4 separate regions of the Homo sapiens genome follow, and all the other regions are linked to region 2. Evidence: fine-mapped expression QTL. A gene starts in region 2. Each other region holds a variant in brackets. All regions are shown on one strand. Distances are from middle to middle.

What was found.
Region 1: its variant is fine-mapped to the expression of CMTM6 in cerebellum (GTEx, PIP above 0.99).
Region 3: its variant is fine-mapped to the expression of CMTM6 in B cells (Schmiedel 2018, PIP 0.95).
Region 4: its variant is fine-mapped to the expression of CMTM6 in whole blood (INTERVAL, PIP above 0.99).

What each region holds. Positions count from the first base shown.
Region 1 is chr3:32,397,641-32,405,599 of GRCh38, reverse strand. All of the region lies in intron 1 of CMTM7 (CKLF like MARVEL transmembrane domain containing 7), which reads right to left. Among named protein-coding and RNA genes, the nearest start is that of CMTM7, 9.8 kb to the right of the region's middle. RefSeq lists enhancers at 2,882-3,749, 3,750-4,619 and a silencer at 3,612-3,791. The variant C/G (reference allele first, on the strand shown) is at 3,933.
Region 2 is chr3:32,499,735-32,505,332 of GRCh38, reverse strand. CMTM6 (CKLF like MARVEL transmembrane domain containing 6) reads left to right here and starts at 2,481. Exons shown (of 4, transcript NM_017801.3): 1 at 2,481-2,725. The coding sequence starts at 2,588. RefSeq lists silencers at 2,381-2,470, 2,541-2,770.
Region 3 is chr3:33,138,820-33,146,778 of GRCh38, reverse strand. CRTAP (cartilage associated protein) reads right to left here. Exons shown (of 7, transcript NM_006371.5): 7 at 1-4,384. The coding sequence ends at 4,331. Among named protein-coding and RNA genes, the nearest start is that of CRTAP, 29 kb to the right of the region's middle. The variant G/A (reference allele first, on the strand shown) is at 4,062.
Region 4 is chr3:32,476,816-32,484,774 of GRCh38, reverse strand. It overlaps CMTM6 (CKLF like MARVEL transmembrane domain containing 6), which reads left to right. Exons shown (of 4, transcript NM_017801.3): 4 at 678-3,463. The coding sequence ends at 815. Among named protein-coding and RNA genes, the nearest start is that of CMTM6, 22 kb to the left of the region's middle. The variant A/CAAAA (reference allele first, on the strand shown) is at 4,473.

The sequences.
Region 1 (7,959 bases), 100 kb after region 2:
ATATTTAAACTCCCTGCCTCAGTTTCCTCATCTGTAAAGTAGGAATACTAACATCTCATAGGGATATGGTAATGATGAATGAGCTCCTGCATGTAAAACAGGCCACAGGATGCCAAGAGCAATAACTTAACACATGGATTTACTCCACAGGAATCTAATGACATGTGACCACAGCCCAGTGATAAACATGGCCACTGAGCCTGCTGCCCCCTGCACTGCTATTGCTCCATCTTCCCTTGCTAAGGAGCAGCCATCAGAGATCCAGCTTTGATGCAGGATAAAAAGGCTTTTGTGACTGCGTTAGTTATCTACTGCTGCACAACCAATTACCACAAACTTGGCACCTTAACACAACATTCATTTATCTTCTCACAGTTTCCACGGAGCAGGAGTCTGGGGAGAAGTCCACTGTTCAGAGTCTCACAAGACTGCAACAAGAGGTTGGCCAGGCTTGGGGTCCTCTTCCGAGCTCACATGGCTGTTAGTGGCTTTCAGTTTCTTGTAACCATAGGTCTGAAGGCCCGTTTTCTTGCTGGCTGTCAGCTGAGGGCTGCTCTGGCTTCTAGGCATGACCCTTGGATGCTTGTGACATGGCCCCTCACAGGCCCTCTCTCAACAAGGCAGTTCACTTCTTCAGAGCCAGCAGGAGACTCTCTCCCTTTGGGAAGGACCCAGTACTTCTTCTAAGGCTTTTACCTGATGAGGGCAGGCCCACCTGGAGAAAATCTTTTAACTCACAATCAACTCCTTTGGGACTCTAACTGCTTCTGTAACATCCCTTCACCTTGGCATATGACATCCTGCCACCTGTGCCATATTCCATTGGTTAGAAGCAAGTCAGAGATTCCACTCACACTCAAGAGGATGGAATTACACAGGATGTGACTGACTGGGAGTCACCCTCAGGTGTGCATACCATGGTGGGCTAGTGTGGGAGACGGCTTTCCATACATGGAGAGATAGCACACCACGGTGGAAAAAGAAGACTTGCTGGACCTGGGTTCAAATGCTGGCTCCACAACTTAACAGATGTATTCAACTTTGGACAGCTATGTATTTAACTTTTAACCTCTCAGCTTCTGTTCAAGCAAAAGGAGGAAAAACTGAATACTCCACAGAGTCATTAGAAGAGTTAAACAGGCTGGGCGCGGTGGCTCACACCTGTAATCCCAGCACTTTGGGAGGCCAAGGAGGGGGGATTACTTGAGGTCAGGAGTTCGAGCCCAGCCTGGCCAACATGGTGAAACCCCGTTATCTACAAAATTACAAAAATTAGCAGGGCATGGTGGCATGCACCTGTAATCCCAGCTACTCAGGAGGCTGAAGCAAGATAATTGCTTGAACCTGGGAGGTGGAGGTTGCAGTGGGCCGAGATTGAGCCACTGCACTCCAGTCTAGGCAACAGAGTGAGACTCTGTCTCCAAAAAAAAAAAAAAAGAAAAAAAAAGAAAAAAAAAGAAAGAAAGAAAAGATTAAACAAAGGGAAATTGCATGTAAAATCAGCAGACATAATAGAGCAGGAATTGAAACTTTAGATCCTCTCTCTCTTCCCAGTCCTTCCTGGAGGAACTTAGAAATAAAAATGAAGATAATAATAACGTTGGGTAATGTGAAAATGCTTCCTAAAATATGGTGTATACTTAGTCCGTTCAATACCCCAGTGAGGAGTTTTCCCCACTCCAGCTGAATTCATCTCTGGCAAAGGATGAAGTCATCACTAGCACCTGCTGTTATGTCTCATAGCACCTCCTTCTAGATCTGCCACAGCCTGCCCATCAAGGAAGAGCCAAATGAACAAATTATATAGTACGACCAAATAATGGACTGAATGCAGTGATCACAACATCATTTTCAGTGTTTAATGACACAGGAAAATATACACAACATAATGATCATGAAAAAAAGACCCCAAATTGTCCTTTTAAGAGCTCAAGTGGTGGACTTGGACCACCTGGCCCCAAATCCACCTTCAGTATTTATGACTCTGTGCCTCAGTTTCCTCGATGAGTTGGGGATAATGATACGACCCACCTCATAATATTGTTGTGAGGATTAAACAAGGTAACACATATAAAAAACACCTAGCCCGGCCGGCACCATGGCTCATGCCTGCAATCCCAGCACTTTGGGAGGCCGAGGTGAGCTGATTGCTTGAGCCTAGGAGTTCAAGAGTAGCCTTAGCAACACGGCAAAACCGTGTCTCTACAAAAAATTAGACAGGCGTGGTGGCCTGCACCTGTAGCCCCAATTGTTAATACTTGGGAGGCTGAGCCAGGAAGATCGCTTGAGCCCAGGAAGTCAAGACTGCAGTGAGCAGAGATAGCACCACTGCACTCCAGCCTGGGTGGCAAAGTGAGACCCTGTCTCAAAAACAAACAACAAGAACAACAAAAAGCAAAACAAAACAAAACATAAACCACCTAGCCTAGTGGCTGTCACCTAAGGAGGTCAAAGTGCTATTATTTAGTTAAGTACCACTCTCATAACTTAAGAGGAAACGTTTAAAGTGTAGATTTTTTCACAAACAATGTTGAGAGCTGACGCTGGCTTCTCAGGGAATAAGGAAATCTGAAGAGGAAAAAGAGACAAAGTATTCAGAAGTCACGATACAGTAATTCTCTCTGCTTTCCAGAAGGCTCCACTTCACTCTGTACCCAAAAGCATTTAATTAACTTCTCCTTTTCCCCTTCCCATTTATTTCAGAAGGATCTTCATTTTTCTCTTTAAAAAAATGAGTGGCCGGCCATAGTGGCTCACGCCTGTAATCCCAACACTTTGGGAGGCCAAGGTGGGCGGAACACAAGGTCAGGAGTTCGATACCAGCCTGGCCACATGGTGAAACCTGTCTCTAGTAAAAATACAAAAGTTAGCCGGGCGCAGTAGCGGGAGCCTGTAATCCCAGCTACTTGGGAGGCTGAGGCAGGATAATTAATTGCTTGAACCCAGGAGGCGAAGGTTACAGTGAGCCGAGATCATGCCACTGCACTCCAGCCTGGGCGACAAAGTGAGACTCTGTCTCGAAAAATAAAATAAAATAAAATAAACAAAATAGAATAAAATAAAACAAATGAGCATGACACAGCTTTTTTCTGAAGCTTCAGGGCAACCCTTTGGGAGTAGTAAGTGGAAACTGCGGGTTACCGCCTCTCTGGTTATCAATCGGTCTTTCTAACTATCTAAAGTAAACTGGCCGGGCACAGTGGCTGGTGCCTGTAATCCCAGCACTTTGGGAGGCCAAGGCGGGTGGATCACTTGAGGTCAGGAGTTCGAGATCACCTTGGCCAACATGGAGAAACCCCGTCTCTACTAAAAATACAAAAATTAGCTGGGCGTGGTGGCGCGCGCCTGTAGCCCCAGCCACCTGGGAGGCTGAGGTAGGAGAATCATTTTAACCCGGGAGGAGGAGGCTGCAGTGAGCCAAGATTGCACCACTGCACTCCAGTCTGGGCCACAGACTGAAGACTTTTTAGACTCCGTCTCAAAAAAACCAAAACCAAACAAACAAATAAACAAACAAAACCTTTGCTTAAAGTAAACTAAAGAGAGCGGGCTCAGCAGAGGGAGGAGAGTGACTGCCCCAGGAAAAGGAAGAGCCGCGTCACTGCCCTTGCTGATTTAAACACAAGTCAGGTGAGGCGCGTTTTCTGCAGGAGGCTGAGAAGGGCTCTGCTCGCGATTTCCGCCCAGGAGCGCCGGGTGGCTGGAGCAGTGACCGCGTCCCAGCCCCCTTTCCGCTCCGCAGCCCCCGGGCTGCTGCCGGCGCTGGGCTGGAAGCCAGGCCCCTGCCGATCCCAGGAGTCGCCGCGGACGCCGCGAGCCCTGCCAGGGAATGAGCAGCGAGCCCAGGAAACCACTGAGCCAAAGTAGTAACAAAGAAGGCCAGCGTGCGCGGGCGGCGGCCGAGCCAGGCTTCCAGGGCCGCACGCTGGGCC[C/G]GGCGCGAGGCAGATGGCAGAGGGGAGGAAACAGATGGCTGTCCAGTGGCGCTGCACAGGAAGCGCCAGGGCTGGCAGGAAGACAGAAGGGCGGCCTTCGCTGCAACGGGAATTTAAATAAATACACCGGCCCACACAGGGAATCCCCTAGGATTCCAGGGTCCTGGCGTGCTTGCGGGGCCGGGGTCTCTAGGGCCCCTGCAGTGCCAGAAAACCTATGGGGCTCACACCGACCCCGAACCCCTCCTCTACCCACTTACGCCCTGGCTGCCTGCAGCCTGGAGGACTTTGGGCTGGTATTTCCATCCCTATCGCCTCACTCGGGCCAGTGATTCCCAGTCGGGCTGTAAGTGGTTATTTGAGGTGTCCTGGATGGGAATTCTTGCCGGTGATTACAAAAGCCTTAAGCTCTGCAGCCTGAATAGGTAAGGCCTTCCGCAAGAGTGGAACTTCCATTCTTCAAATATATGCAGATACTGTGGCCATCACTTAAATACAAGAGCATTTAAAAGCATTTTTGAATTTTCTAGTCTGTCTGTCACTGTTCCTTTTCTAAATCATCAGACACCAAAAATATGATTACAGCTTAAATACTATTACTATCACACTTGGCTCCTTGAAACTCTTGGATGATAAAGGGGCACTCATTAATTTCTAGATGTTAAAAAGTCTAGAGAATTGTTTTATGCCAGCCACCTAAGAAGGGCAAGAGACACTTCATTTCTCTCTCTGGAAAAGGTCAGTGCCAATTATCCTGAAGAAGTATTTACAGATTTGTACACCAGGATTCTCTACATGGAGGTTCATCACAGCCTCCTTTGTATGCAGGTAGAACTGGAAGCTCCCAGAGCCACAGTGTACCATGGTACACACAACCAGGGTACCTCCATGACTGGCTATGACAGCACTGTTAGAAACCAAACTGCAGACGAACAAAATGCACCACATACTAAACAAACAGCAAGAAAAGCATTTACAGCCAGGCATGGTGGGTCACACCTGTAATCCCAGCACTTTGGGAGGCCGAGGCAGGTGGATCACGAAGTCAGGAGATTAAGACCATCCTGGCTAACACGGTGAAACCCCGTCTCTACTAAAAATACAATAATTAGCTGGGCATGGTGGCACATATCTGTAGTCCCAGCTACTCGGGAGGCTAAGGCAGGGGAATCACTTGAACCCGGGAGGTGGAGGTTGCAGTGAGCCCGCGCCACTGCACTCCAGCCTGGGCAACAGAGTGAGACTCCACCTCAAAAAAAAAAAAAAAAGAAGAAGAAGAAAAAAAAAGAAAAGCATTTACAAAATATGTATAGAATCATCCTAGTTTTGTTTAAAGAAAAACACCACCAGCCGGGCAAGGTGGCTCCCGCCTGTAATCCTAGCACTTTGCGAGGCCAAGGCAGGTGGATCACCTGAGGTCAGGGGTTTGAGACCAGCCTGGCCAACATGGAGAAACCCCGTCTCTACTAAAAATACAAAAATTAGCCGGGTGTGGTGGCACATGGCTGTAATCCCAGCTACTTGGGAGGCTAAGGCAGGAAAATCGCTTGGTCCTGGGAGGCAGAGGTTGCAGTGAGCTGAAACCGCACCACTGCACTCCAACCTGGGCAACTGAGACTCTGTCTCAATTAAAAAAGAAAAACAAACCACCACCAAAATTATGTGTATCTACTATAAAATACTTTAGTTTTACTTTTTAATCTTGGGGAAGAGGGAGTGGGTGAGTCTATTTTCTTCTTGTGCTCCCCAAAGTTTCCACAATGAACAAGTATTACTTTTGTTAGGAATAAAGCCAATAACTTATTTTATTATATTTTATTTTTGCATTTGTTTGGTCACTGACAGTAGTTTCTTGTCAGGAATGGGCTGAGGTCAAAGAATCTTGGCAGTGAGGTTCTTTGCTGCTTTTTACTCTCCAACTTCCAGGAAGTAGGACATGGGTGTGCAGACTGCACTTGGGAACCAAACTAGACCCCCTCCTCGCCCTCCGCCATACACATCTAAAGCAGAACATAAAGGGATGGGCCCTTCTGGATGATGCTGGGCTATTCTGTGCTAACAGGTCTATTCACAGCTAGACCAGAGGCTGACATCCCCCACAGCTGAATTCCACTTGGCACCTAACCTGTGAATTCTCAAAGTGAAGCCTGGAATTGCCCAGGCCTCTTAGAGGGTCTCCAGGACCCGCTCTCCTGCCAAGAAACCTTAGTGTACTCCCCCCAGCACCCAGTCTGGGAAGGCTCCTTCAATCTTATTTCAGACAAAACATCCTTTTAGGATATAAAGTATTTTGCACTGTCAAAATTGCACTGTCAAAATTCCAGTTTGCATTACTATTCTGAAATGAATAAGATGTATATGTAATATAACCCTAATCCCTGTGACAACCAAAAAAAAAAAAAAACAAAAGGTTCCATAAAATTCCAAAATAACCCCTAGGGGGCGGTACAGCCCCTAGTTAAGAGTCACCTCATGAATGGTGAGTTGATATGATGCTTTGCTGATTTTTCTTAGACTAAGGACTATATATTCACCAAGATTTGGCAGACCCTGGAGTCTGGTCCCTGCATACCTCCAGTCTCATCCCCAATACTCCCACCCTGTTCTCTCCCCTCCAGCCCTAGAGATACTCCTCCCTCCACTAACAGCCAGGGTCCGTGCTCTTTCTTTTCTTTTTGGGGGGATGGGAGGACAGGGTCTTGTTCTGTCACCTAGGCTGTATGGAGTGCCGTGGCGATCACCACTCACTGCAGCCTAGACCTCCAAGAGATCCTCCCATCTCAACCTCCCGAGTAGCTGGGACTACAGGCACGTGCTACCACACCCATCTAATTTTTGTATTTTTTTGTAGAGACCGGGTTTCACCATGTTGCCCAGGATGGTCTCAAACTCCTGGGCTCAAGCCATCCGCCCGCCTCGGCCTCCCAAACTGCTGAGATTACAGGCATGAGCCACTGCGCCGGCCAACGCTCTTTCTTCTGCTTGTGATGCAATTTCCTCATGCTCACATCAGATGTCCCTTCCTCAGAAACACCCTTCCTAATCCCCAAAAGGTCACACTCCCTAGTATATGCTCTATACCACTGAGTACTTCTCCTTCATAATTTCGAACCTGTTTGTAATTACATATTCATAACCATTTTGATTAATGTTTATTTTCTCTATTTGAGTATAAAGAGGCAGGGGCTCATCTGTCTTCTTTCCACAGTTCCCTAGCACACAGTCGTGATCACCTACTAGTTAGCTGATCACAGTAGGTGATCAACAAATATTTGCCAAATAAATAAATGAACCTCCCAGAAGATATTTAGATTTCCATCATTGCCGCTTGTGAAATACATTCTGATTCTCTGTCCATGTTATGGTTATGTAAACGTCACAGTCTGTTTTTCTGCACAGGCAGAAAGAGTCTATCCTGTTAATAGCTGTATTTCACATAGCGTAAGATTAACAGCATAGCAGATGCTCAGTGGATAAGATGGCACCCATTTCTAAATGTCTGGGGTGGGAAGATTAAGATAATTACCCCAATTCTGGCTCATTTCTTGCTACATCTTTTTCCTTCCCAACCCTAACATACCACTTATCTCTAACTTAAACATATATTGAATAAAGGCACCAAAGGGGTAAATGAGCCACTCCCAACCTGAAAACTTACACTCATCTGTCAAGATGCAATTTAAATATCACCTTTGCCCTCTGATCCTCTTCCATAAGGTGGGCAACTATCAGAACGTTTACCTTCCTGAGCAGCCAATTTTGGTACTTGTTCATCCCCTCAGCTTGTCAGAGGCATCCTAACCAGAGTGACTCCATCTTGAATAAAGGCCGAGAGAAAGCCAAATCTGCTGGATTACATTCCCAGGGGGTTGGGCAGTCTTGGTCACATGATGTTTATGGTTGAGGGAATGAGTTAATAATTTTTTTTTTTTTTTGAGACAGAGTCTCACTTTGTTGCCAGGCTGGAGTGCAATGCTGCGATCTCGGCTCACCGCAACCTCTGCCTCCCGGGTTCAAGAGATTCCCC
Region 2 (5,598 bases):
GGCTAAATTTGTGTCTTCTTCTAAAAATGCAAAGAGAAGCAGAGACCCCTAGAGAATTGCATAAGTGTGCCCTAAACAAACCAAGAGGGTTGACGAAGTCTGTTCATCTTCTCTCTTGTCTCAAAGTATCCTTGTTTCTTTGTAACTTCCTCCCAATACTTTATTTTGAAAATGTTCAAACATACAGAAATGCTGAAATAATTGTACAGTGGACACCCGTATACTTCACCTAAATATTACCATTAATATGTTACTGCAGTTGCTTTATTAGAGATCCTTGTTGTTGTTGTTTTTTTAACAATGATTTTTTTTTTTGAGACGGAGTCTCGGTCTGTCGCCCAGGCTGGAGTGCAATGGTGTGATCTCGGCTCACTGCAAGCTCCGCCTCCCAGGTTCACGCCATTCTCCTGCCTCAGCCTCCCGAGTAGCTGGGACTACAGGCGCCCGCCACCACGCCCGGCTAATTTTTTGTATTTTTAGTAGAGATGGAGTTTCACCGTGTTAGCCAGGATGGTCTTGATTTCCTGACCTCGTGATCCGTCCCCCTCGGCCTCCCAGAGTGTTGGGATTACAGGCGTGAGCTACCGCGACCGGCCTGCTTTTTTTTTTTTTTGAGACGGAGTCTCACTCTGTTGCCCAGACCGGAGTGCCGTAGCGCGATCTCAGCTCACTGCCACCTCCACCTCCCGGGTTTGAGCGATTCTCCTGCCTCAGCCTCCCGAGTAGCTGGGATTACAGGCACACGCCACCACGCCCGGCTAATTTTTGTATTTTTAGTAGAGACGGGGTTTCACCATGTTGGTCAGTCTGGTTTCGAACCCCTGACTTCAGGTGATCCACCTGCCTCGGCCTCCCGAAGTGCTGGAATTACAGGCGTGAGCCACTGCGCCTGGCCTATCACAAATCTTTTATCCATCTCTCTAGTCATCAACTCATCTTAATTTTGGATGAATTTCAAAGGAACTTTTAGACATCAGTAGTGTCTAATTTGGGATGATAGTGACTTGAAGAATAATGGGGCAATGAATCCTTGTAGCCCTGGTGAAAATACAGTGGCCTTCCTTGTTGGACAGAATTGGTGGCATCTTGGCCTTGGGAGGACATTCAGAGTGCATGTAATCAGAGACAGAAGGGTAGTTCTGGCTGGTTGTAGGTGGCCCCTGCAGGGCAGTATCTACTTGTCTCTATTCATTTGAATGGGAGCTTTTGTTTGTTACTGGAAGAAGAAAGGGAGGTTTGGGGCCACGGAGAAGATGTAGCAGCTGATGGCAGCAGAAACCCCTTCTCTCTTCCATGGGTTTTGAGACTCCAATGGAGAGATGAGTTAGAAGCTGACGTTTTCTGGGTTAGCGTTTAGCAGCAAGGTTTCGAGTCAGACTGCTTAGGCCTGCATTCCAGCTGCTCCTGGCTGTTTGACCTTGGATATGATTTCAGCCTCTTGGCCTCAGTTTTCTCATTTGAAAATGAATGTAACCGACTTTATACTGTCGAACCTACTTTATATTGTTGTGAACATCCTGTAACTCAATCAACTTCAGTTGCTAAAATATAATTACATTCCTTGACAAGTTCACACAAAATTAACATATGTGACTGTAGCAGTTGGTGACCAAGAAAGAGAAAAAGGAAATGATTTTGAAAAGTGAGCCTAAATGGAATTTCGGGAGACGCGGGAGGGAGCGATTCTGAAAGTCCTTACAGACAACTCATTGTACTTCAAATGAAATACGAATTCTTCCCTTGGTCTGCAAGGCCTCCACATTATCTGGCCTTTGCCTACATCTCCAACATCTCCTTTCCTCCCGTACTTATTCCTAGCGACACAGGCCTTTGGGCTTCAGATTGAGTCAAACTCATTTGGTCCTCGGGACATTTGCACTTTCGTGAAAGGCTCTCCCCAGAACTTTACAAGCCTGGCTTCTCACACTTTGAGTCTCATTCAATTCAAAGATCATGGTCCTCAGAGAGGCCTTTCCTGACCACTCAGTTTAGTAGTGGCCATTTAAGTAGAGCACCCAATTCTCCATCCTTTTTTCCTTCTCCTTCCTCTTCTCCTCCTCCTCCATCTTCTTTTTTTTTTTAATAAATTTATCAAGCCACCAGAAATGCTGAATCCATTATTTTCGTATCATATTTTCACGTCACTTATCACTATCTGAAATTGCTATCCATCTGTTTTCTTGTTTATTGTCTGTCTCTGTTACTAGGGATCCTGTGATTTTGGGTAGTACTTGGCTGTCACCCAAGTACCTAGAACGGGGTTCACTGCACACCGAAAGTACGCAAAAATACTAAGTGAATGAATGTCAGGAGGATGAAAGATGGAGGGAGGTGAGAAATCCATCAAAGGCTCACAGAAAGAACTCAATTCTTGGATGAAAGTCGGAAGAATCCCAACAGCTAACAAGCAAATTTGCTGAGAGGGGGCGGGGCGGGCCAAGGGCGGGGGCGGGAAGGGGCGGAGTCAGGCGGAAGCCGGGGAGAAGGCCCAGGAAGTGACGGCCGCCTCCCGGCTACCGGGGACTTCTGGAGTCCGAGAAGTCAACGGCGCGGTTGCTGCGGCCGCCGCGCTCCCCGGCCCGAGGCGATGGAGAACGGAGCGGTGTACAGCCCCACTACGGAGGAGGACCCGGGCCCCGCCAGAGGCCCCCGGAGCGGCCTCGCTGCCTACTTTTTCATGGGCCGGCTCCCATTGCTCCGGCGCGTTCTCAAGGGCTTGCAGCTGGTGAGTCCGCGGTCAGGGAGGGCGAGCCCGGGCTGGGGAGCGGGGTCTGGCCCGGGCTTGGGAGGCCGCCGAGCTCCTTCGTTTCAGCTTGGTTGTTCAGTAAAAGGAGGTTTCCACACCTCTAGTTCCTTCCCTCTCAGCCTGGGGAAGGGGGCGTTACCCTCCGCCCTTCCGCCGGGCGGCCCCTCAGTCCCAAGGCTCTCCCCATCGGGATCCCACGAACTGGGGCCACCCAGCCTGTTAGGCGGGCTCAGGAAATGCGTCGGAGACCCAAGTCAGCCACTTCAACATCTTTCACTCATCCTCTATGGCGACTTTCCTCTCTTCTCTCTGCTGCTACCCTGCATTATCGCCCACAGTGCCTGTATTTAGACTGTGAAGCGCTGTTTATCTTTCTCTGGCTCTTGCGGTTTTCCTGCTGCGAGCCCATGGGGGCAGTTTAACTTGCTGGACAAAGTCCTGCGATACCACGCGTGGCATTGAGATGTGTGTGTATGTGTGTCCGGTAAATTGTCTTCTAAAAGTTTTATATTGACTGGAAAAGAATTATTTCAAAATTGAGCAATATGGGTTCTAAGTGGAAAGTCAAAAGGACAGCTTTTTGTAAGTATGTGCGGATAGCTGAACTAGGACATGGTATGCATCTTTCCATTTTATTGAGTTTATTTTAAGCAGTTGAAGTACCATAAACCTGTTCGTGAAAACATCAAAGCATCTTTGAGATTTAAATTATTCACTTTACAGTCGTGTTGGCTCCTATGTACTGTTCCAACCACTGATGGTTGAACCAGTTTAGGAAAAATAGAAACAGTTTAGGTTCTATTTCTGCAATAGAACCAGTTTAGGAAAAATCCGAATGCTTATGATGTTTATGAGTTTTGTCTTACTTTGTTTTGTTTTTTAACCATTCTAAGTAAAAATTAGCTCATTGGTTTCCTTGGAAAGAACTTAAATTCTTACAACTCAAATGACCCGAAGTTAAATTCTTAGAACTCTAGTGACCTACTTTTATTGAATAGAAAAACAGAAGTCGGAAAATCGGCACTGCTGTTTAGCGATCAAAATGATCACATCTGCTGATGACTGGGAAATCATTTGAAAGCAAGTGATAATGTGGCCTATGGAACCCAGTAGGATCTGGCCTTATCTTTCTCCCAGTCTCCCTCTAGGTGGTTCCACACTGGCCACCTTTAATTTATTACGAGGCATCAGGGGCTCTTTCCTGCCACTGTTCCTTTGCATAAGCTGTTCCTTCTACCTTCTTCCTTCTTCCTTCTCTTCTCTTGTCAGCTGTCACATGATGATTTTTAGGTATTAGCTGTATTTCTCTGCAGTAAAGCTAAAATTTTCTACGTGAATAGTAGAACTCTTTAGAACAGAAAAGAATATTCATCTGAAGCTTTTTTTTTTTTTTTTTTTGAGACCGAGTCTTGCTCTATCGCCAAGGCTGGGGGCAGTGGCGCAATCTCGGCTCACTGAAACCTCCGCCTCCCGGGTTCAGGCAATTCTCGTGCCGAGTAGTTGGGACTACAGGCACGCACCTCCATGCCCGGCTGATTTTTTTTTTTTTTTTTGGTAGAGACGGGGTTTCGCCGTGTTGACCAGCCTGGTCTCAAACTCCTGACTTCAGGTGATTTTCGCCCTCCGGGCCTCCCAAAGTGCTGGGATTACAGGCGTAAGCCACTGCGCCCAGCCCATCTGAAGCATTCTTGCTGCTCGAAAAAAATCATCTGTATTGGTTTGCTGCCCACAAAATCTCCTGTTTTCAGTTGCCTTTATTATTTTCTTTCTAATAAAAAGTGGCAAAGCTAAAGTAAATTTTCTGATTACCTTCTTATAGTTTAGTAAACTGTAGTTTCGTATCTTTGGAATAGAACATAACCAGTTTCCTTCCTTATTGCTGTTATAGAAGAAAACATGGAACACAACCAGAAATTTTTGTGGTAAATGTTATACTTGGACACAGAGAAGATGAATTTGCCTTAAAAGATCGTTAGACTATTATTAGTTCTCCATCATTCATAAGAAGAAATGGAGAAAAAATAAAAACTAATATCTCTTTATGAAATCCATTTATTTGTTTATGGGGAAATTGTCATGTTACAGGAATGCTTTCTTTAATGTGGAGATTTAAAAGTACTTTTTCATTACTGCCTTTCACTTTGATGGTTGTCTTTTTGTTCCTTTGTTTGTTTTGATAATGTCTTATCTCTTCACAGTAACAGTATATTACAGGAATTATCCAGCAAGTCCCAAGAAGGTTACATATGAAGTCGGTAAAAGTTGTCTTCCAGCCTGGGGCTATAGGCAAGGTCTTTGCCTTAACTCAAATTCTTCCTTTAGATAGATTGGTTGTTTTACTTTAAATGTTTAATTTTTTTAAAAAACTAAACAGAATTGCGAGCTCCAGTAAGGAAACAACTGTAATGGAGAAACCCGTAATCAGAAGAGGAGGTGTTTTAACAAGGGACCTGCAAACCCTGTGAAATTTTATTCAAAATATTGTACACTTATATGTTTGAGTATATTATTCTGGACCCATAAATCTTAACAGAATCTCAAAGATCCTACAAGAGAAAAGCCTGCTCTAAAACTTAAAAACCAGACATTGTGTATATACTTAGGAAATTCTTACATTAGAGTCTTCGGAGGTTGAATTGAATTACCTCTGAGGTTCTTTGCACTCTTAAGGTTTTTTTTTTTTTTTCAAACCTCTGAGGCTCCATGGGGTTTGCTATTACAGAACTGAATTGAATATTGAAGGGATAGAGAGTGGAGCCTGTACACAGAGGAGATTAGAGATAAAAGAACGTAACTTCTCTATCTCTTGAAGTTAACATAGCTGTGTCTGCCATTTAGATATGACCTAAGTT
Region 3 (7,959 bases), 640 kb before region 2:
CCAACTGACAATCTAACAAATCATTTTCTGTTTGTCACTAAGGTGGGTTCAATAAAATTTTTGTGCTCTTAAAATTCCCCTAATAAGAACTCCTGAAAGCACACATTTCCTTCCTAAGGCAGCCCTTGTGGTCAGTGCTCGCAGTGGCTCTCTTTCTGAATTCCAGAGGTGAGCACAACAGGTTAGTTGTAGTAATTAGAAAGTCTCGAAAATCAGGAAGGTATTAGTATGTTGCATATGTCGGTATGTGCTCATTTCAGTCAGTCAGTCACTTTTAAATACATGGGTGTACACAAACCTCCCCTCAGCCCTTCGCTTCTCCACAAGTCAAGTGTGAACAGTAGCAGTGGCCACAAGGAGTATCTTTAGACCCTTCCCAGCGGGTGCCTCCTGTTTGGATGCCCTGAGTGGCAATGGGGCTGGACAGATGCCCCACCACGATGGGCGGCCTCCCCACCAGCCTGCAGAACCAAACAGCAACCACTGAGCTCCATGCTGATGGGTCAAAGGACAAGCAAGGCATCTTAGAGCAGGCCTGGAAGCTCCCACAAAGCTTACAAATGTGTTTGTTTTTTCGAAGACGGGCCAGACTTGAGGCTGAACCAATGGGGTCTCCATCCAGGAATCTTCTAGGCTCTTCCAAGAAGCACACTCAGGGAGGTGTTGGGTTGAGGTCATTGAGTGCAGCCTGCACACCAGGGTTTCATGGTAGGTTTGGAAGACCCAGCCCAGTTTTTGTTTTTTTTTTTTAAGGTTTGGTTTCCTTTGAAATAGAAATTTTGGTAACTCAGCTCTACAGCCTTCAATCAAAGCAAAGTACTGACAATATTGACTGTACTATCACCCGGGTCCTCAGGGGACATCACTAGGGTAGGGGTGGAGGTGCTTTTCAATCCCCAGTGAAAGGAGGCCAACTTCAGAGAGTGAACGAGGACCCCCCAGCATGCCAAGTCAACCCATACGTGGAACAACAACATGTACAGAGAGCTCACCCCAGGCTCACAAGACAAGGACCCAACAGTACCTCTGCAGGGCACAGAGGTGGAGTGAGTCACAACACCCAACCCTGCCTGGGTCCCTGTGGACGTCGGCTTTCATTTTCTCACACAGCTGGGAAGGACACTGCAGCCTGAGGCTATAAGGGGAGTTCACAGCTGCTGGGCACACTATTTACAGACTCAGGAATCCCGGAGCAGGGCGTCCACTCGCTGGGTCCCCCACTACTTTCTAGTCCTGTCTCATCACCCTCTTCCCCACTGAGTTCAAAAGGAAGTTTCTCTGGTGGAGTAAAGGTTGGGGTGAGGAAAGAAAGGAGAACCCGGCATCCCGTGGGTGAAGGCCATCTCCCCCAGCAGGAAGCCACGTAAGATCTGACGCATCGCTGGGATTGGGGGCTGCTGTGGACACGGTGCATCCACCAGTAATAACACTGACTCCTCGGGCCAAACACCCCCGCTGGGAGTACAGATTTTGTGGACGTGGGCAACTTCAGCCCAAGACAGAAGTGGTAGGGGACTGTCCTGGGTGGGTACCCTCAAAGGAGAACCTGATGCAGGGATTCTTGTGCAGGTGAGTGAGGACGTGGTGTCAGAAGGGATGAGGAAAGCAGGATAGAGCTGAAGGAGAAACAGAAGGATGTGCCCGAGTTCCCCGAGGTTGGTAGAGTGTTCTGGGGGATAAGGGAAGCCCAGAAAAAGCACAACGTGTGAGTGTTCCACCCCAATTAACCACCATTACACAAAAACCCAAACACTCTATCCTTTTATTCCTTCCCAGGCTATTGCAGGAAAAGTCTTGTTTCCCAAACGCTGTGCCTTTCTCCTCTTGCCTTCAACCCTGGAGGGGCCCAACTACACAAGTGGCTTATTTGGAGAAGGGAATGAGGTTGAATAAAGAAAGCTCAGCTTCCAGAACACCACACTCTCTTGGTTTTCTCTGACCTTAAGGTAACTCCTTCTCAGTCCTTTGGCTGATTTCCCATTTCCCAGAGAGCCCAAGGGCTCCATCCATGGCTCTTTTCTGTTGCTTCTCAGTAATACTCAGAGACAATCTCAGTGGCCCCTCCAGCTGCATGGCTTTAAATGCCACTGACATGCTGATGGTTCAGTAGGGGGCGCTGTGGTGCCCTGCCAGATCCCTTCACACAGCCAGTGCCCAGGACCCCCACCCCCAACACACTACCATGCATGGTAGCTGCCAGATGCCTACAGCCTCTTTTCCAGAGACTTGCCCTCAACTGAAGTCACTTGCCTTCAAATGTACCCACACTCCCAGAGAACTTCTCACAGCCAATAAATGACTGATAAAGGCTTTCACAGGTTCCTTCTGAGAGCACCCCCAACAATAAACCAAGTGCATTCAGATCCCTGTCTCGAGCTCTGCTGCAGACCTGACCTGAGAGAACTCTCCACTTTGATTTGCAGCCAGAACCTCCCATTCCAACCACAGACAGCCTGCTTTGCACCAAATTCCATACTTACCCAGCCCATCCTTCCCTATTTCAGTAACTGGTAACTCCATCTTTCCTGCTATTCAGGCCAAAAACCTTAATGTCATCATTAACTCTTCCTTCTCTTACACTCCACATTCAAACTCTCAGCAAATCCTATTGGCTCTTTTCAAAATAAATCTAGATATTTGACCACTGCTGTTGCTGTGGCCCAGGCCCAAGCCTGGAACCTTGCAGTAGCTTCCTAACAGGTCTTCCCTCTTCCTTCTGCCCTTGTCCACTAAAGTTTTTCACAATATGGCAGCTAGAATGACCCTTGCAAAATATAAATCAATCAAGGCACTCCTCTGTTCAAACCCTCCAGTGGTTCCCATCTCACTTAGCAGAAGCCAAGGCCCTCCACCACCTGTCCTCCCCAGCCGCCTCTCCTTCCATTCTACCCCTGCCCACGACTCTGCTTGGTCTCCCTGCTCTTTCCTGACCACGTAGAGCAAGTTCTCACTTTGGGGCAGTGCACATCCTGTTCCTCTGCCTGGAATGCCTTGTCCAGGATCCACTTCCCTAACGTCTCTGCTCAACGTCACATTCCCAGTGAGGCCCCATTTAAAACTGCAGCCTCATCTCCAGGATTTCTTACTCCCTCCCCTGCTTTATTTTTCTCCACAGCAATTATCACTACATGATACCTTGTATATATTTATTCCTATGTATTGGCTATCTCTTTCTCCCTGTAGAATGTAAGCTCCATGAGCACAGGGAACTTTCCCTGTTATTCTGTGAAGTATCTCTAGTTCCCAGGTCAATGCCTAGCACACAGTAGGTACTCAATAAATATTTACTGAAAGAATGAATGAAACTAGACAGCTCTGGCTTTCTTCCTTTTCCAACTCGGAGACTTATAACTAAGCATTGTCCTCAAATGGGATCGGCCAACCGTTGTAATTTTGGAGATGCAAAGTGGGGCAAAAGCCACATTTCTGCACTCTACACTCTCTACTCAACTTGTTTTTCAGTGGGTGCTAGAATTGGTACAAGTCAGACCAAGTGAAGACCATTGTGAGGCTGGAGAAATTTAGCCTATGTCTTCCACCATCTTTCCCGGATGGGGAGAAAGGAGACTAAAATCTGGAAAAGCAAATAAGCCAAAGGAGGTTTTCACAATTATCATCTTCTAGGAATGTTTTTCTTATTTAAAAAATAATACTGATTTTCTGGGAAAAACAAAAAAACAAGCCAGAGAAGACTGCCCTTCAAACCAAAATGGTAAGAAAGGCAGCTATGAACATGGGGAAGACAAGTGTGAACATGAGGAAGACAGGGATGAAGGTGTGAAAACAGATGTGAGGATAAGAAGACAGGTGTAAAGGTGAGAAAGAGGCCGGGCATGGTGGCTCACGCCTGTAATCCCAGCACTGTGGGAGGCCAAGGCAGATGGATCATCTGAAGTCAAGAGTTCGAGACCAGCCTGGCCAACATGGCAAAACCCCGTCTCTACTAAAAATACAAAATTAGCCGGGCGTGGTGGCACATGCCTGTAATCCCAGGTACTCGGGAGGCTGATGCAGCAGAATTGCTTGAACCCAAGAGGCGGAGGTTGCAGTGAGCTGAGAAC[G/A]TGCCATTGCACTCCAGCCTGGGCAAGAGAGCGAGACTCCATCTCAAAAAAAAGGTGAGAAAGATAGGTGTGAACATGAGGTGGCAGGTGTGAAGATAGGAAAGGCAGGCTCACCCCTGATGACATGCAGTTAGAGAGACGGGGGCTTCCCTTTCACTTTGGAGAGTAAAGAGAAGGCTCTGAGGTATCAACAGCCTGGGCTGTTGGGAAAAGGACAAAGAATCTGTGTTTCCTGAACGCCAAGAGGAAGTCTCTTTGGTTGCTGTGGGCTAGCTGGTCTCCTCCAGTTCCAAGAGGTCATCCACATATTCCACAACTTCTCCCTGTAAGAGACAACAGGACAACTTTATTAAATGGGCTATTGGACTTTTAAAAGTACTGATGAGCAGAAACAGTATCCCGAGAGGCCATCACCACTGTCTGCTTTGGCTGAAACAGGTTTTTTCTGCTGGTCTGGGGCCCAGAGGACCTGATTTCTCCCTGTGGAGGGGACCTCGGCTTCCACTCCATTTGAACTTGGTATCAAGTGCTCTGCGAGATCCGCCAACATGCTGTGTGAGGCGGACAGCCCAGCCTGTGAACAGCTCTACTAAGTGGCCCTCCTGTGTGCATCTCTGCCTACTCCCCTTCCTCCCCTCTCATGTGTGCAGGTCTCCCACAGGAACATTTTCTATCTGTTCCCTTTCTGCCTTGACCACCAGAACCCAAACTTCTCAAGGACCAGGGGACTGGGTTGATTTTTCTTCCCCAGAGTCCAGCACACAGAAGGTGCTCAATACATGTGTTGAAGGATGAATGATTGAGTGCTTGCATACATACTGCTGGTGTGACTGAAGCAATCACTCCTCTTACAGGAGAGACACACAGGGATAGTGGGATCCACTTGCCCAGTGTCGGTACCAGGAGCTCACCTGCTCCCTCCTTCTGCAATCAGCCTTATACTTCAACTTGAAGCAGCCCAGCACCCTTCCCAATTTCTTTCTCCACATTGACTTCTCTTCTATAACCCTCCTGGACCACCAGCTGATGACACCCATTCTCTTTTCTGCAGAGAATGAGTGAATGACCAAGGCTGAGGCCCCTTCCATAAGAGTCAACACAGACTGGCCCCACCAACCCTGCTAAAACTCGACCTCCTTCACTGAGCTCACCATCCCAGGCCAAGAGCCTGTTGGCTCCTTTTGATGTTTTAACACAGAGAAATTTATAAAAATCTTGCAGCATTTGGGAATAACTGGAAAACCTATCAAGTACATGAGACACAAATGGGGGGTCTTAGTATTATCATCAAATACTTCTACTATGTCATGCCTGAGATTAGAAACTCAAACTGTAGACACTACAGCTTGGAAAAATTGTTTTTCAGTTGCTTTCTAGACCCCAAAAGGAAAACACAGCATAGTAGAGGGATTATGTGTATAGCTATGACTTCTGCTTAGGGAGTTACTATATCCTGCTGTGTGTCTGTTGTGACTTGCGGGATGATGGTATTGTTTGCTTTTAGCTCACTAGTAATAAGTGCCCGAGGCAGCACAGACGAAAGAAATGCATCCCCTGCATGGCTGTTGTAGTGAATACTGTTGGGGCCTCACTCAGATCTCCTTCCCAGTGCACTCATCCCCAACTCCTGTGAGGGCTGCTTGCTAATGGCTAGCAGCTGCCCCTTCTCTGGGCAATTGCCTTTGGCCAAAAACAAAAACAAAAACAAAAAAAAACAGCAGTCTTGACAGGGAGGTTACACACCAGCCCTTCCTGGCAACGAAGAACGAATGACAGACTGATAAGGGGGACTACAAAAGGCAAGAACAACTCTGTGGTGCAATTCATGCTCCAGAGTCCCCCATGGGAGCAGGCGAAGCTTGACTCCAGCTGAGACCACGTATTTGTTGAGCTCCTTCCCCTGACCCTCATTCCGTTCCTACCTGAGAGCACTCCCTCAATACATCCTTCCAACAAATTATATTCTATTTCTTTTGGACTTCCCTGAAGCAAACAACCATCAGAACTTGAAACCTGAAGCATCTGTTTCAGCCTGTTTTAAAAAGTTTCTGAAACTGTAATAAACCTCTGCAAAATTCTGAACCAGTGCGTAAACTTTCAGGAGTGCTTATACACATTTCAACACCAGAAAGATAATAAGGAAGAATGCCACACATATCAGCAGCTAAAGTGTACTGATGCTTTGTTTCAAAGGAGTATTATGTCCTTTGGAAAATGGAAGGACTAACTAAGAATTTGATGATTTTGGTTATATTTTCATTTCAAAGTATTACTTGCCATAATTTGGTATATAGTAAGAAAATGGTTCATTCTTTAGAGATGGATTAGTTCTTCCACAATTCTAAAGCCTCAATTAATAAGCAAACTACTCCAGAACCTTCAACAAAGTCCTTTTATCTTGAAAGTGCCAAATCCAAGAATCCTAGGAATTTTAAAGCCTGCAATAAGCTTGGCGTGTTCATTAGATGATTACTAACCCTCTGTGTGACTATGAGCAAGCCACTCTGCCTTTCTGAGTTTGTTTCCTTATCTGTGACATGAGAGAGCTTTACTGAATCATGTGAAAAATCTCTTCGTGTTCTAGTATCTATGATTTGCTTTCTATATATGTTGTTCTTGTACATCAGAAGTCTTGAAAATGTTCACAGCCTTAGGCCAGGAATTTCACCACTGGGAATTTTTTCTAAGGAAATGATTAGAGAAGAAGTAAACAATTTAGTCCCTGCTATGCTATTTGTAAAAGCAAAAAGTTGGAAGCAAACTAAATGCCTACAAAAAGGCTATATTTCTTAAAATTATCTATATCATGTAATATTAGTCACAAAAAAGTCATTTTTATAATGAATATTAACAAGGGAAACAAAAATCATGTGACCATCTCAATAGATGCAGAAAAAGCATTTGACAAAATTCAACACAAATTCATGATAAAAACATTCAGGCCGGGTGCGGTGGCTCACGCCTGTAATCCCAGCACTTTGGGAGGCCAAGGCAAGTTGATCACCTGAGGTCAGGAGTTCGAGACCAGACTGGCCAACATGGTGAAACCCCCGTCTCTACTAAATACAGAAAAATTACCCGGGTGTGGTGGCACATGCCTGTAATTCCAGCTACTTGGGAGGGCGAGGCAGGAGAATCACTTGAACCTGGGAGGCGGAGGTTGCAGTGAGCAGAGATCACACCACTGCACTCCAGCCTAGGCAACAAGAGTGAAACTCCGTCTCAAAAAAAAAAAAAAAAAATTCAACGAATTAAAAATAGAACTTCCTCAACCTAATAAAGGGCACCTACAAAAAACCCCCAGCTAATAACGTACTTTCACATTTAATGCTGAAAGACGACTGTATGCTTTTTCCTTTTAAGACTGGGAACAAGACAAGGATGTTCACTCTCTCCACTTCTTTTTTTTTCCAGAGAGACAGGGTCTTGCTCTGTCACCTAGCCTAGTGTGCAGTGGCATGCTTATGGTTCACTGTACCCTCCCACTCCTGAGCTCCAGCAATCCTCCCACTTTAGCCTCCTGAGTAGCTAGGATTACAGATGTGCACCATCATACTTAGCTAATTTTTTTTTTTAGACAGTGTCTCACTGTGCCACCCAGGCTACAGTACAGTGGTGTGATCTCGGCTCACTGCAACCTCCACCTCCTGGGTACAAGCGATTCTCTTGCCTCAGCCTCCTGAGTAGCTGGGATTACAGGCATGTGCCACCACGCCCAGCTAATTTTTTTGTATTTTTAGTAAAGCAAGATTTCGACCGATTGGCCAGGCTGGTCTCAAACTCCCGACCTCAGGTGATCTGCCCACCTCAGCCTCCCAAAGTGCTGGGATTACAGGTGTGAGCCACCACACCCAGCCTAATTTTTTTATTTTTTGTAGAGATGGGGTCTTGCTATGTT
Region 4 (7,959 bases), 22 kb after region 2:
ATCTGGCCCCCATATCCTTAAGGGTTTTGCTAGTGGAGAAGCTAAATTTGAAGCAGACGCATGGTCTTCTGTCTCTTGATAGAATTCTCAGAACGTATGATCGTATTTTAGAAGAGAACAGTTGAGGAAGTGATTTAAGGAAGAGGAAGTAGGTAGTGGCGTCATGTCACTGTGTCATTGCAGTGTGACAACTGGAACATTATTTAAGTAATTTAACCTAATAGTATCTTCAAAATGGAATTTCTGTTTTGATATTAATAACTTTTTTCATTTTCACCTAGGCTGAGTTGCCTAGTCACGTATTTTCCTTATCGCATCTGTGGGTCAATCTAACCATGCAAATATTTTTGTTTTGTATCATTTTATAGGATTTAATGTTTATCTGTTAACCCTACTTTCATATATTAGCCCTCCACATATAAACATGCACACATAAGGCAGAACATTAATATTTTGTGAGACTTTGACTAATAGCCATTATTCTGGAAGTTTTTCTTTTATAACTTCTTTCCATTTTTTGATGACTTAAAAAAATTTTTTTTACCATTAAAGAGTAGTCGTGTATAAGATAAAATTCATGAACATCTTGTTTATATGAAACATTCTCCAAGCCAAGTAGGAAATGTAAGATTATATTCCAAAATTCTCATATAACCTTTCCTCCTTTTTTTCCTCAGGTGTTTGGATTTATAGCAAGTTTTATGTTCCTACTTGACTTTATCACTATGCTGTATGAAAAACGACAGGAGTCCCAGCTGAGAAAACCTGAAAATACCACTAGGGCTGAAGCCCTCACTGAGCCACTTAATGCCTAAAGACTCTGGGGAGCAGATGTTACCTAAGGTAGTGACCCTGCATTGTGGTGCCTGAGCCCTGGCAGAAGCTCTTGTAAAATTTGTTAATTGTTTAAACCACTTCTTTTGGAGAGCAAGGGGAAGGTCAAGAAGGCAGTTTTATCAATATTGTGTCAGTCACCACAAAGTAGGCCAGATAAGTTAAAAAAAATTTTTTTTTAAATAATAATTGAAACTTATCTCAAATGGAGATTTTGGTGGGAGGAGGAGAAAACAATTGTTTTTAAATCACACAGCTCAACGGTTGATAAATGATTCTGTCATTCTGTTACAGGTCATTCTTTTACTAGGCTTAGCTTCCAAATTATGCTTTATAGCTGTATAAACATCGTGATTATATTCATCTACTTAGAAATTGTTTTATTTTTAAATTAATTTGCTTAGCTGTTTGTTTTGATGCTTAGATTATGTTCTGTTAATGGGAATTTAACATATTTAAGAAACCAATATTTAAAATGTTGGTCTAGGTTTTTTTCCTTAACATATATTACCAGGCTTTACTGTATTTCACTCAGCCTTAAATGTTATAATATTTTTGGATAACGGTTATTAATTCTTTGAGACCTTCGTATAGCCTATAAAATGTATGGGAGATGTTGGTATTTTATGTGTATAAAAGCAACAATATCAGCAACTTCGTGTTTATACTGCACCTTGGTTGTTGATGTCAAGTAAAAAAAAGATTGTTTTGTAACACATAAAAAAATGGAAGAAACTGATACCACACCTAAGGACCAAAGATAAGAAAGACTTTTTGCCCAAGACAGTGAAAGTAATTATAAAAACAAGCTTTGACCACTTACCAAGTATCTGAAGAGATGAGTTCATACTATGATTTAGAAAGTGGTTCAATTCCCCTGTTGGCATATGATTATTTTTACTAAAATTAATACAGCTCTGTGGGTCTTCCTTAGTGTTTTCTTTGAAGCCAATCTGTTTTTTTTAGGACACCAGCCTTTGGTTTTTCATCTGTTCGAGATGCCTCTTCTCTGTCTCCTTATCAGATAGAAATGGAGTCATGTGCTGCTGCTTCATCTAGCAGAGGTTGGCCTCTGGCTCTGACACTTTTTGTCAGTTGTCTTTAGGTGGTCCTGAATCTTGGGCCCTTTTGATTGTGAATACTGTGTAGCAGGATCTTGAGAGTCCTTGTTCTTACATAGGCATTGCTCTAGTTTGTCTTTGGCAAAAAAAAAAAAAAAAAAAAGTAAATATCCAGGGAACCCTGCCCAGACTAATACTGTTGGTGGCATAAGAGAATCAAGCCATTCTCAAGAGATAACTTCATAACCAGAATTGTCTGTTGGCTAGCAGCTGTCACAGATAGGCAGGGCACTTGGGATATGACCTTTCTGTCCAGGTGATTCACAGACTAGACCTTTCTTATCCTCCTCCTAGAGTTTTGACTTGGGACTCTAGTGTTAAGATGATGAGCCCGTGCATCAGGTCCTTCTGCACTTTGGTGGAAGTCTCCCAGGGTAGGTTTCCTATTTGAAACAGTGGAATCATGTTTCCAGTGATAAAGTTTAATGACCTCATCCTTTTTTTTTTTTCTCATCTGCCATTTGTGTGTCTTAGATGGGTTTTAATTGCATGAATGTGGCTAATGTGGTTCTCAGAAATTGGTCAGTATGGCCCAACATAGCTTCTGCTCTGTCTTACTGACTCAATACCTTTAGGATTTGTATCAGAGTTTGGATACTAGTGTTAGTGGTGGTGTCACCACTACTTAATTGGGAGATAATGAAACCAATCATGGATGCTGTTTTTATTGGGCATGTCATCTAAGAGAGGAGAAATAGCTGGGTTTTGGGTCTAATTATGAATAAGGACTGATTCAGAAAACGAGTTTATGGTAGGTAGACTAAAGTTTCACATCAGACTGTACCATTGTGATTTAGACCTATCTAAAATTCAGAGCATATCATCTGGGCTACCTCAGGGTCACCACCCATGTATTGGGCTTAGTCAGGATTGACAGATACATTCTCAGCTGGCCTGTCATATAAAACATACTGTCATTGAGCTTAAGCTCCGCTTGTTCTGAGGTTTCACCTCCATGTGTTTCATTGGTGCAAAAGTGGATCTCTTAGTTGGTCACTTAATTCTTTCTTTTTCAGAAAGATAGTATGTTCACTGGTATATTTGGTCACTCTTAGAACCTTCCTTCACATTGTTTTTTATGGGACCCATGAATGGTTAGCCTTTCTTTTCTATTGTAGAAGGAAATAAATAGGAGTAAAAAGACCATTGTAGTAAATAAGTTCAAGGGGAACTTGGGACCAGAAACCACTGTTATGTACAAAAAAATGGCAAATTCAATAAACTCAAATTTAAAATAATTTTTAAATTAACAGTTATGATAAATTTTATATTTTATACAAATAGATTGCTTAGAATGGTTCTCAAGAATTATAAGAGAAATGAACTCACAGTACAAAAATTTTATAATTACTATACTTGTGTTTTGTTTGGGGGCTGGGAAATGTATTTTTACATTGTAGCCAATCATTTTATATTTGTCAATTTAAATCTTATGGGTCTTTTTTTTTTATCTCTCTTGATGTCAGATTTTATAGTCTTTTTAAATAAATCCATTTAATTAAAACGTTCTTACCTTTGTAAGTGTTTATTACAGAAGTGTGATGTTTAAATGAAAAGCTGTCTCTGTAGTTGTGGGAGTTGGCTGCACAATCTTGTTGAGTGCCTATATAGAATACTAGATTTTAGATATATCTAGGATAGAAAAGAAACAAATCCATTTCCCATCCATAAACTGTCCCTCTTGTTGGAAAGTTAGAATACACATTTAAACAACATTTTTAGGGAACCACAGAGGAAGACTTACAAATGGCTTTAAATACTTCCAAAGAAGCAATTTAGACTCCTTGTCACATTTCTAGATGTGGCTAACAATGCTAAAAACAAAATAGGCACATTATCTTAGGAACTGTTCAATGATTGGGAAAGTGTGAAGCAAAATTATTAGGGTGGTGCTGGTAAAACTACAGCTATTTGTGTAGTTTGCGAAATTCCTGCCTCCACCCTGTGTGAGAATAACAGGGTCTTTATAGTCATCAAGAACTCACTGGAATTTGTACATTCTTCAGAGTTTAGAGTTGAGTTTTGTTTTGATAAAGAGCATTGTATCAATATGCAATAAGCTGCAAGAAGCAGAAAATCTAATTAAATGTGTCTTAAACAGTAAGAAAAACTTATTTCATAAGACATCTGGGTACATTGGTGAATTCAGTGGCCAAATTTTTCTACAAGTACAGTAATGTGTGTCATAGAAATTGATATAATAAAGGGGGAGGCTGGGCGCAGTGGCTCACTCCTGTAATCCCAGCACTTTGGGAGGCCAAGGCAGGCGGATCAGCTAAGGTCAGGAGTTCGAAACCAGCCAGGCCAATGTGGTGAAACCCCATCTCTAGTAAAAATACAAAATTTAGCTGGGTGTGGTGGCACATGACTGTAACCCCAGCTACTTTGGAGGCTGAGGCAGGAGAATCGCTCAAACCCCAGAGGCGGAGGTTGCAGTGAGCCGAGGTCATGCCATTGCACTCCAGCCTGGGAAACAAGCGCAAAACTCCATCTCAAAAAAACAAACAAACAAACAAA[A/CAAAA]AAACAACGGGGTGGGGGGAGAAGTATTGTCTTTTCCCCAACATTTTTATATTTAGCTACTTTTTAAAATTTTTGAATTTGTTTGTTTGTTTTGGAGACAGAGTCTTGCTCTATCCTTCAGGCTGGAGTGCAGTGGCGCCATCTTGGCTCACTGCAACCTCTGCCTCCCGGGTTCAAGCGATTCTCCTGCTTCAACCTCCTGAGTAGCTGGGATTACAGGCGCATGCCACCAAACCCTGCTAATTTTTTTGTGTTTTTAGTAGAGATGCGGTTTCACCATGTTGGTCAGGCTGGTCTCAAACTCCTGACCTCAGGTGATCCACCTGCCTTGCCTCCCAAAGTGCTGGGATTACAGGCATGAGCCACGGCGCCTGGCCTGAAATATTTCAAGTACTGGAAGCACAGAGGATAATACCTGTTGTAGACTCCACTCACTCACCTTTAATAGATTATAACATTTTGCCATATTTGCTTCAAGGTTGTAACTCTGGTTCATTCATTTTAAATGCTGTTTGGTATTTCATTGTATGGATATGTCACAATTTACTTATTCTCCTACTGATAGAAAAATTCTAACAGCATTTTCAGCTTTTGACCATCTTAACATTACAGGGAACAAATGTATTTGAACATCTCTTCTTGTGCACATGTGAGAATTTACATGGTGGGTAACTACTTAGAAGTTAAATTGTCTGGTGGGTCAGAAGGTACGTTATGATTTCAGCATGGCTAAATATTTCCAGATGGATCTCCAAAGGGTAGACCCAGTTTATATTTCCCTCAGCAGTGAATGAGGTGCTGGTTTCCCCACTCTTGTAATGCACTTAATATTAGTTCAACTTAACATTTTTGCTCGTCTGGTACTGAAATGGTGCCTCTTTTTTTTTTTTTTTTTGTATTCTTCCTGTTTCTGGTGAACCTGATTGTCTTTTCACTTGTTTGTTGACCTTTATTTCTCAGAAATAGAAAAAATAATCTGAAAATTCATATGGAAGTGCAAAAGACTCTGGATTGCCAAAGCAATCTTGAGGAAAAAGAACAGATCTGAAATTAGCCAGGCGCAGTGGCCTGCACCTGTGGTCCAATCCACTAAGGAGGCTAAAGTGGGAGGATCGCTAGAGGATCCTAACAGCATTTTCTCCCAGGAGTGTGAGGCTGAAATGAGCTGTGATTGTGCCACTGCACTCCAGAGTGGGTGACACAGTGAGACCCCATCTTAAAAAAAAAAAAAAGCCAAGCATAAAACAATTTTGAAATTGCACTATCAGAAATTAAGGTTTGATCAAGTCTGTGTTATTAACATAGGTAATAAAAAATAGCCCAAGAAAGCCAGCAACAGACCTATACATATATATCCACTTAAACAGAAGCAACATTGTATGTCAGAGAAGGGGCCACCCATTGAAACAATAAACTAGATGGTGTGAGGCATTCACACAATACATCAAAACCAAAGTAGCATCAAGTACTAAATATAAGATGTAAACCTTTAAACATTTTAGGAAGTATAGAATATTCCTTTTTTAAATTAATTTTTTATTTATAATTGACAATTATACATATTTATGGAGTACAGTATGATGTTTCAATATATGTGTACATTGTATCAAATCAGGGTTTGTCATATCCATCACTTTAAACATTTATTATTTCTTAGTAGTGATAACATTCAAAGTCTTCTAGCTATCTTGAAATATACACTACATTGTTGTTGTTTGAGACAGGGTTGTTTTGTCGCCCAGGCTGGAGCACAGTGCAGCCTTGACCGTCTGGGTTCAAGCGTTCCTCCCACCTCAGTGCCCCCGAGTAGCTAATTTTTGTAGTTTTTGTAGAGACGAGTTTTGCCATGTTGCCCCAGCTGGTCTTGAATTGCTGGGCTCAAGCGATCCTCCCAAAGTGTTGGAATTACAAGGGTGAGCCACCACTGGCCCGCCTACATTATTCATTTCTACAGTCACTCTGCTGTATAATAGAACACCAGAATTTATTCTTCCTAACTGTAACTTTGTATCCATTGGCCAACCTCTCCCAGTCCCCACTCCTGCAAACTCACTACCCTCCCCAGACACTGGTAACCGTTATTCTACTCTCTCATTCTGTGAAATCAACTTTTTTAGATTCCACAGATGAATGAGATCATGTGGTGTTTGTCTTTCTGTGCCTGGCTTATTTCACTTAACATAATGTCCTCCAGGTTCATCCATGTTGCTGCAAAAAAAAGCAGGATTTCATTGTTTTATGATTGAACAATATTCTATCGTGTATTTCTGTACACACATGCCACATTTTCTTTATCCAGTCATCTGTAGATGGACATTTGGATTGATTTTGTATCTTGGCTATTGTGAATAGCACTGCAATAAATATGGGAGTGCAGATAGCTCTTTGACATACTGATTTCACCACCATTGAATGTATTCTCAGTAATTAGACTGCTGGATCATATATGGTAGTTCTGTTTTTAATTTTTGAGGAACCTCCATACTGTTTTTCATAATGGCTGTACTAATTTACATTTCCACCCACAGTGCATAAGAGTTTCCCTTTCTCTAAATCCTTGCCAACATTTGATATTTTTGGTCTTTTTTTTTTTTTTGAGACAGAGTCTTGCACTGTCGCCCAGGCTGGAGTGCAGTGGCGTGATCTTGGCTCACTGCAACCTCCACCTCCCAGGTTCAAGTGATTCTCCTGCCTCAGCCTCCCGAGTAGCTGGGACTACAGGCATGCGCCACCACGCCCAGCTAATTTTTGTATTTTTAGTAGAGATGGGGTTTCACAATGTTGGCCAGGATGATCTCGATCTCTTGACCTTGTGATCCACCTGCCTTGGCCTCCCAAAATGCTGGGATTACCGGCGTGGGCCATTGGCGCCTAGCCCTATTTTTTGTCTTTTTAATAGTCGCCAATGAGCTCATAGTTCATTGTGGTTTGATTTGCATTTCTCTGATGAATGGTGATATTGAACATTTTTTTCATGTATCTGTTGGCCATTTGTATGTCTTTTCTTTGAGAAATGTCTATTTAGGTGTTTTGGGCATTAGGTTTTTTTTTTGGCAGGGGAGGCTATTGAGCTGTTTGAGTTTCTTGTATATTCTGGATATTAACATCTTGTCAGATGGATGGTTTGCAAATACTTTTCTCCCATTCTATAGATTGTCTCTTCACTCTATTGATTGTTTCCTTTGCTGGGCCACAGCCTTTTGGTTTAATGTAATTCCATCTGTCTATTTTTGCTTTCATTGCCTGTGCTTTTGAGGTCTTATTAAAAAAATCCTTGCCCAGTCCAATTTCATGAAGCATTTCCCGTTTTCTTCTTGTAGTTTCAGATCTTTTAGGTCTACGATCCATTTTGAGTTGATTTTCATATATGGTGAGAGAGAGGGGTCTATTTCATTTTTCTGCATATGGATATCCAGTTTTCCCAGCACTATATTCATTTCCCAAGTTACCATTAACCAGCACCATTTATTTAAGAGATTGTCTTTTC